2 linked regions of the Homo sapiens genome follow. The protein of the gene in region 1 interacts with the protein of each later gene in a pairwise test. Each region holds a gene or a part of one and is shown on either strand. Other genes may lie near its edges.

Region 1 (3,924 bases):
GCTTGCCTATAAAATAAACTTGTTAAAACTTCAGTTAATGTCTACTTGACTAGGTTGTGTAGAAACTATTTCTGTCGGCTTTTTACAAGACTATAGGGCTGGCAGTGGTCTTCACAAGTAAAACTGCATATCAAACAGAAACAACTAACATACAACTTCTGAAAGTTTGCCAGTCATACTTCAGAAAATTGTCCTGGGTATATGCTTATTTTGTGAGGAATGAAACAGATAAAACCATAGCTTCCAGCATGTTCCACATCCCAGAATATGGTGACAGACTGGCAGACACAGACTTAAAGATAATCTGTGAAAGATACTATGCATGTATCTATTCTAGTATGAGATAATTAATACAGGTAGTTTCTTAAAGAAGTAATGAGATCTTCATTATTTGGATTACGATTCAAAGCAGAAGCTACACAAATCAGTGTAAAATTGATTTTACACTGTTCTGCAAGCTTAAGCCATTTAAGATTGGCTTAAATGAATTTCTTCTCAGGTAATCATTGCTGAAACTCACTTTGAACCAACAGTATACCCACTCAAGAAAGCACCACGATAACTCAGTGTAAAGGGAATGTGACAGATGCATGTAAAGTACTTTTCAGCACAGCACTCTCCTCCTAAAGTCAATAAAAACAATTTATTCCAAGTAATGTAATGATTTATATACTCATATGCAACTTTCTGTTTATAATGAGCATCATTGTTAGAAGCAGGGAATACAAGGAAGGGACTTTTAAGGACATAAATGACTTTTATATTCTAAATTTATTTAATAGGTGTACACAGATTTATCTTATAGAAAAAACATCATCTGTACTCTAAATTCCAAAACAGTAGAAGAAAATAAATTCTATACATATATTTGATGTCTAGCCTGTGGAATTTTTATGTGCCTCGAATTTGCTTATAATTATGAATCTTTACCACCCATTTCCATTTGTTACTTAAGTATATATACAATCAAATATCACTTAATGCAGATATATGTTCTGAGAAATGAGTCATGAAACAATTTCTTCGTTTTGAGAGTACCATAGAGCATACTTACATAAACCTAAATGGTATAGACTACTGCACACCTAGGCTATGTGGTATAACTTATTGCTCCAGGGTACAAACCTGCACAGCATGATACTAAGCTGAATACTGTAGGCAAATGTAACACTGTGGTAAGTATTTGTGTATCCAAATATGTCTAAACATAGAAAAGGTACAGTAAAAATATAGTATAAAAGATAAAAAATGGTACACGTGAATAGGGCACTTAGTGAATACGAAGGCCTAGGACATTACTATATACTACTGTAGACTTTATAAACACTATACTTTATACTACACACAATTCATAAAAAAACCTTTTTATTTCCTCAGTAATAAATTAGCCTTAGCTTATGGTAACATTTGTAATTTATAAATCTTTTTTTTTGTTAACTTTTGACTCTTTTTAAAATAATACTTAGCTTAAAACACAAATACATTGTACAGCTGAACAAAATTAATATCTTTCTTTATATCCTTGTCCTATAAGCTTTCTGCTATTTCATTATTTTTTCCCCTCTTTAAGCTTTTTCGTTACAAACTAAGACACAAACACAAAAATCACTATAGGCCTACACAGGATCGGGACCATCAGTATCACTGTCTTTCATCTCCATATTCTGTTCCACTGAAAAGTCATTGGGGCAGTAACACACATGGAGCTGTCATCTCCTAGGATATCAATGCCTTCTTTTGAGATGCCTCCCAAGGAACCTACTTGGGGCTATTTTACAGTTAACTCTTTAAAAAACAAAAGTAGAGGGAGTACACTGTAAAATAATGATTTAAAAATCATGGTGTGGTAAATACATAAACCAATAACCCAGTCATTAATGATGATTATCAAGGGTTATGGGCTGCACATAGTTGCACGTGCTATACTTTTAGACGACTGGCAGTGCAATAGGTTTGTTTACACTAGCATTACCACAAACATGTGAATAATGCATTGCACTACGATGGTATAATGGCTCTGATATCACTAGGTGACAGGAACTTTTCAGCTCCATTATAATCATATGAGACCATTTGTTGTGCATGCACCCCATTCTTGACTACAATGTCGGTATGTAGTGCATGACTGTATATATGTATGTATATACATATATAAGATTTCACTTACATCAAATTATACTCATCAATTTATATGTAGTTACATTTGTTTTTAATACAGGAAAAGTTATGGTACTAGGTGAATGGCAGAAAAACCCAAAGTGAATTATGGTGATGACTTGTAATGTTTGGGTAACAACTTTGCTACACCAATTCTTTAAAGATTGGACCCTCCCCAAAACAAGTAGCAGATAATATATAGGATGTAAATTTCATTGATGTGCTTGGAAAACCTTGCAATGTTCATAAAGAAATGATGGAATTTGATGGCAAGTGGTTTCCAGGGGCCAATACCTTCAATGATATGCCTGATCTGTATGTTACTAAGTGGACTTTGGTTTCGAAACTGTACGTTATTAAGTGTATAGAACTAATACCAAGGGGTGTTTTATTTAGAAAGCAAATGGGACTTTATAATAGAATATTGCCTGCTAGAGAAAAAAAATTATTTTACACTATGTTCTTCTCTATAATGGTATCAGATACTGGTGGAGAATTAGGAAATATATGGATTTTATAATTTGACAGTTATTAGTGTGGCTAAAAAATACATTTTATTAAATTAAAAATAGCATTTCACTTCTTTCTCAGCTGCAAGAATTCAGGGACACTTACTATTTACTGAATCACACACAGTAAAAGGAATCTTTTGGGAAAAGCTGATGCTGGTTTCCAGATAAGTTACGATAATGCTTCCCGCTTTATATTGACAACCATTTTTTTTCCTTCAAAGGATATCGAGAATCAAAATTATGTGAAGGAAATTTTGATAATAACACAACAAAGTGCATGTGCCATTGTTTTCTGAGTAAAAAATTAAAATTACATTATTCTACAGTTCAAATTTAATCAGTTCACCGTTATTACAAAAATTGATCTGATAGCCACATACCATTGAAATGCAAATTTTGATGATGCTCTTTTTCTGATTAATAATTGCAGAAATGTCATTTTAAATCTACATCCCCAAGAGCTTCACAGAATGCCTCTTTCTAGTTAATCTTTTTGAGTAGAAGAAACAGGGAGCTCTGAGCAAACCAGCCATGCTGTCTCTTTCATGCACACGGTAGGGGCAAGGGCACTGTGGTATTGCTGTGTTGCTGTTAACTCACAGAGGTGCTGCCTTTCTTCTTTACCACTGCTTGCCTCCCATGGATTCCTCTGCTTCCCTCTGGGCCTCCTCACTAGCCTTCAGGCAACGTTTGGGTGACTCATGAAGAAATGGAAAATCTTGCAGCTCCAGCAAAAACGGTTAGTCTTAATGGCTTTGTTGAACCTGAAGGAAAGTGACTTTGCTGCTCTTTGGATGAGGAAACTAATCTGTTTACAATAGACCAGAGTAATAGGGTGTGTTTTTATAGTTACATGCAATGATAACTAACATTTTTTACAGTTTTCTTTTACTGCACTCTCTTGAAATTTTTTAATGAAATAGTGTTAGATTGTGGCTAATATCATAAGAGCTTATAGTACACAAACAATAAGGAAGAAAGTAATAAATAGTATTCATGTTGCAACATTGGAAGTTTTTGTAACAAATATTTAGTATTGGACATATTCACAGGTAACATGTTTCTAAACCAAATTAAATTGGTAATAGAAAAGATTAGATTGAATATTCATTTTTAATATGATCATGTGGTTTCTTGTGCTTTACCATCTTAGATACAAGCTTGACCAAAAAAACCCCCAAAAAACCAAAAAAGTGTTATGTTAATTTGGTACTGAAAAGCACAATTTTAAAGAATTTCTTGGGGACTCTTTGTC
Region 2 (3,924 bases), on another chromosome or scaffold:
ATGAGAAGGTTTGCTTTGTGTGCTTGCAGCTGTTTTCCTGTCTTTGCCAAGCCCAGGCTGGGACCATAGGCAGTGAAGAGAAAATGTTTTTTTCCATAGCATTTGAGTAGATATTTGGCAGAAGGGAATTACTCAACCCATGGATACAGTGTAATTACCCACAGTTCTAACAGAATGGTACAGAGAGGCCAAATCCTTTGTGGAATGAGACAGGTATGAATAAATAAATGTGATATTACCTGCCCTATTACCTACCTATTTCACAGATAGAAGGAATGTGGGCTGCCTCACAGAGGATAGTGGGGTAGATTTATCAATAGGAGTGAGTCCTGCAACCATAGTTCCTTTGGAGGCACAGAGGGGAGGTTGCCTGAAATGTGCTGTCTAGATTCCACCTGGGATATGATTTGATTGACAGCTCTGCAGGGCACATCTGCCCCAAACAACTCACCTTGGTACCTACCTTAAATCCCTGCAGCTCGAATCACTCTTTTAGGTCAAGACATTTTCTCCAGGAAGCCCCTGTTAAGGGACCACTTTGCTTCTTGTGAGCCAGCGCAGGTCAGTATGCAGGCCTGGGAATGGGGTTTCTTTCAGGTGAACGTTTTAGCTCTGGGGTCTTGTTGGATTTAAGTGAAGACTGACATCGACATGGCCTACATCAGTGGTTCTTAAACTTTGTTGCACATAAGAATCACCTGCGGAGTTTTAACAGTCCTCATGCCGTGGCCATATCCCCAAGACCATTAAATCAGAACCTCTGGGGATGGATCGAGATATCAGTATTTTTAAAGTTCCTTCCCGCAAGTTGGTTCCAAAGTGCAAAGAAGCTCCAGAGCCGGTGACTTAGAACATTTAAAAAGGTAACTGTATCAATTTAAGAACAGGCTAGCAGTTTCTGGGGGCGGAGGTAAGGGGAGTGGCTCCGCTAGGGCAATAAAGGGTGGGATTCGGAAACAGCCATGACCTTGTGTGAACTGTGGCAGCCTGCGTCTACAAAAGTCGCTCTGCTGCTATTTTAAGGAAGTGAAAGAGAACTGAAGGGTGTCCTGTTGTAACACAACTCTTGCGGGCCCCAGCCTTCCCCTGCTGGCTGTGCTTTGGTCTGCTGCTGGCCAGGTTCCCGCAGTGACCACACGTCTCATATTTGCCAGGGTGGGTTAGGTTCTGTTCACATGTAAAATTCTCCTGGGCCTACTGGTCATTTCAGACCGCGAGGGTAAATTTGGTTTGAAAAAGTTGTGTCCTGTGGAGTTTGTCGACACTCCAGCCTGTAGAGAACTAAAGGCTAGGGCTGTGGTGACTCCTGCCAGAGCTGGGGACTATGCCGAGTCCCTGGTGTCGCTGCCATCTGAGGCCTACAGGGATTTTAAACAGCTTAACAGCAGCCAGTCCTTGGAGGCCTGGGCAGGGCCACAACATAGCAGTACAACCAAAACGGGTTCAGGCCACACGCTGGAGGTAGGGGCTGGACCAGATCTCCAGCTTCAGTCCTCCCCAGTTCGAGAACCCATTCCTGTGGTCAGACATTGCCAACGCTTTTCTTGGACCTAAGGTCCCAGACCTTGGCGCTGGGCACAGGGAAATGCTTCCTGACCTCGGCTCTTCATAAGACAGAACTTTTGTTTGGTGCCAACCACTAGAGGGACCTCCACCCCAGGTTGCGAGTGCAGCGCGGCGGGACCTGGGATGATTCGGGGGCTTTCCGACCTGCTTAGGGAGGGCGGCTCAGAGACAACCTCAATTTTGCCTGGATTGCACGCGGGCCGAGGAAGTCGGGATGCTCCGAAGGGTTTCTGCTCTGGGAGTGCCTCTAATGTGGGTTTTCTATGCTTTCTCTCTTCGCAATTCTCGACACCGTTTCCTTCTTCCTCGCTTTCATTCCCTGTGACCGGAGAACGGCGCTGAAGGACTGGAGAAGCCCAGGAGACTGGGAGCCGGAGCGCCGGGTACCCACCCGGGCCTCCCCGCAACCGGAGCTGTGCGGAGGAGGAGGCGCGGCGAACGGGGCGGGGCTCCCGGAAGGGGGCGCGGTCCGCCGAGAGAGGCGGGGCTGGGGCCCGGACGCGCGGCCCAGGGGGTGGGGACGAGGCAGGTTCGAAGGGGCGGGGCTGACCAGGCCGGTCCCCCGGGAACAGGAACCCTGGTGGACGGGTCCCAGCAGGCTTCTTCGGTGCCCGAGAGGGAGCGGGTGCCCAAGGGGGTGGTCCCTGTGGCAGGTCCCGGGGTGGGGGCGCGGCGCTCCGGGAAGAGCCTTCCGCAGGTCCCCGCCCCGTCACGTGGGCGCCGGCCCCGGCCGCTGCGGTCGGTCCGCTGGTTGGTCGGGCGCTTGGTCCGGCAGTTGGTCGGTGGGCCAGTGGCCCGTCGCTCGCTTCTGGGCTCTCATGTTTGAAGGTGGGAGGGACACGGGAGCGGCCCGCACACCTGAGCCGCCCGGAGAGGAGCCTCGGCCCCGTACCCAGGTCAGTGGGCTCTCCCCACACCCCGGGCTTGCCGCGCGGTCGGGGTTGGGATCCCCGTCGGGAGCATTACCTAGGGAGTGGAGCGCCCCCAGAGCTACGAACCACGGGGACGTGTGGGTCAGTGTCTCTGTGAGCCCCGGAGCGTGTCCCAGGCTCGAGGACGGGGACCCTTCTCCAACTCCACTGGCCAGAAGCCTGGGAGGAGGGCAGAACTCCTGTGGGTTGGCTGCGAATCTCCACCCAACCCTGCCTGGGATCCGCGGACAGTCCGCACTCCTGCAGGTGCCAGCGTGGCCCTGGAGATGCGCAGGGAGGTGGGGTCCCTGAGTTCTGTGCGGCGCGTCCCAGCCCTGCTCAGCCCGGGGAGCAGCGGCGTGGACTAGGGAGCCTAAGGAGGTTGCGGAAGCTTTAGGTCTGTCAGCCCAGGCAATTCTCTGGTGGACACAGCGTGTGTCTAGATGCAGGGCCTCGGCTAAAGCCAGTTCTGTAGTGTAAGTGCAAAAATACAGCACACTTTTTAAAATCTAAAGCCGCCGCGTCCCAGTAGACTGCAGGATGGGGACGGTCCTATTTAAAAGTGGGCTCCCTCCTCACCTCATCACATCAGATTCCAGACCCGCAGTTTTTCCTCGGATGAAAATAAGATTATGTAACAAGAGAACAGAACTTCCAGCGTTTGGATAGGATTAAGACAGGCATTCTTGCCAGTGTTTAATCTTCTTAAAAAACGAATCTAATTATATTTTTACTTTTAGAGCAGCCAGATATTTGGTATAGATCCGTGTCCCTTTTCTATATTTTGGTCTACTTCCTGTCTTTCTCTTCGTCTCTCTCCTTTCTCAACCCCTCCTTAATTGATTGTAATACAAATCTGAAGTGTTTTCAAATTTGTAGTGTATTATGTGAAGTTAAATGGTCAACTACAGAAAAGTAGTTGGTTTTCGACATAATTCATCTTCAGCATATTCAGTCTTTCATTATTATAGGTGTATGGAAAGCTGTAAGTGTTATCTAATTTAGAAATTATTTCTCTTTGGCTTAAGAGAGGCAACCCATTTGTACTTTGCTTAAATTCATAGCTAAATAAATTTGAAGTGGGAGATGGGGATGATTGATGAGGTTTTCACTGATTGCATTTATCCATGTTTTATTTAACATATTTCAATTATTAGTAATACTATTTTAAGATTTGGTGATGTGACAGTTGTTAGCTTATTGCTACTGGAGAGATAAGCTGCTTACCATGATGCCTTCTTTACTGGGTAGCTAAGGGAGATGCGCTTTGACTTTAAAAGAGTAAGTGGAATGAGATCAATGACATGAAGGCGGTAGGAACAAAGTTATGGGAATTCCTGTCTTTCATCTGAGCAGGGAAATCTGGGATAATTTTAAGAAAGGGTGATGTGATGGACCTCAAAGGATCCCTCCTGGGGTTTTTGAGGCAGAGAAGGGTAGAGTGTGG

Evidence for each region.
Region 2: the proteins of PPFIA2 (region 1) and PPFIBP2 interact in a two-hybrid assay, tested with the Homo sapiens proteins (one study listed by BioGRID).

What each region holds. Positions count from the first base shown.
Region 1 is NC_000012.12:81,283,725-81,287,648, reverse strand, and holds part of PPFIA2 (liprin-alpha-2), read left to right. Parts: intron 1-3,345; coding exon 3,346-3,408; intron 3,409-3,924. UniProt on the Homo sapiens protein: Alters PTPRF cellular localization and induces PTPRF clustering. May regulate the disassembly of focal adhesions.
Region 2 is NC_000011.10:7,511,660-7,515,583, forward strand, and holds the start of PPFIBP2 (liprin-beta-2), read left to right. Parts: upstream 1-2,381; 5' UTR 2,382-2,458; coding exon of another isoform or gene 2,459-2,946; intron 2,947-3,924. Other genes in the region: leucine-rich repeat extensin-like protein 5, read right to left, coding at 1,551-2,381, 2,459-2,946. UniProt on the Homo sapiens protein: May regulate the disassembly of focal adhesions. Did not bind receptor-like tyrosine phosphatases type 2A.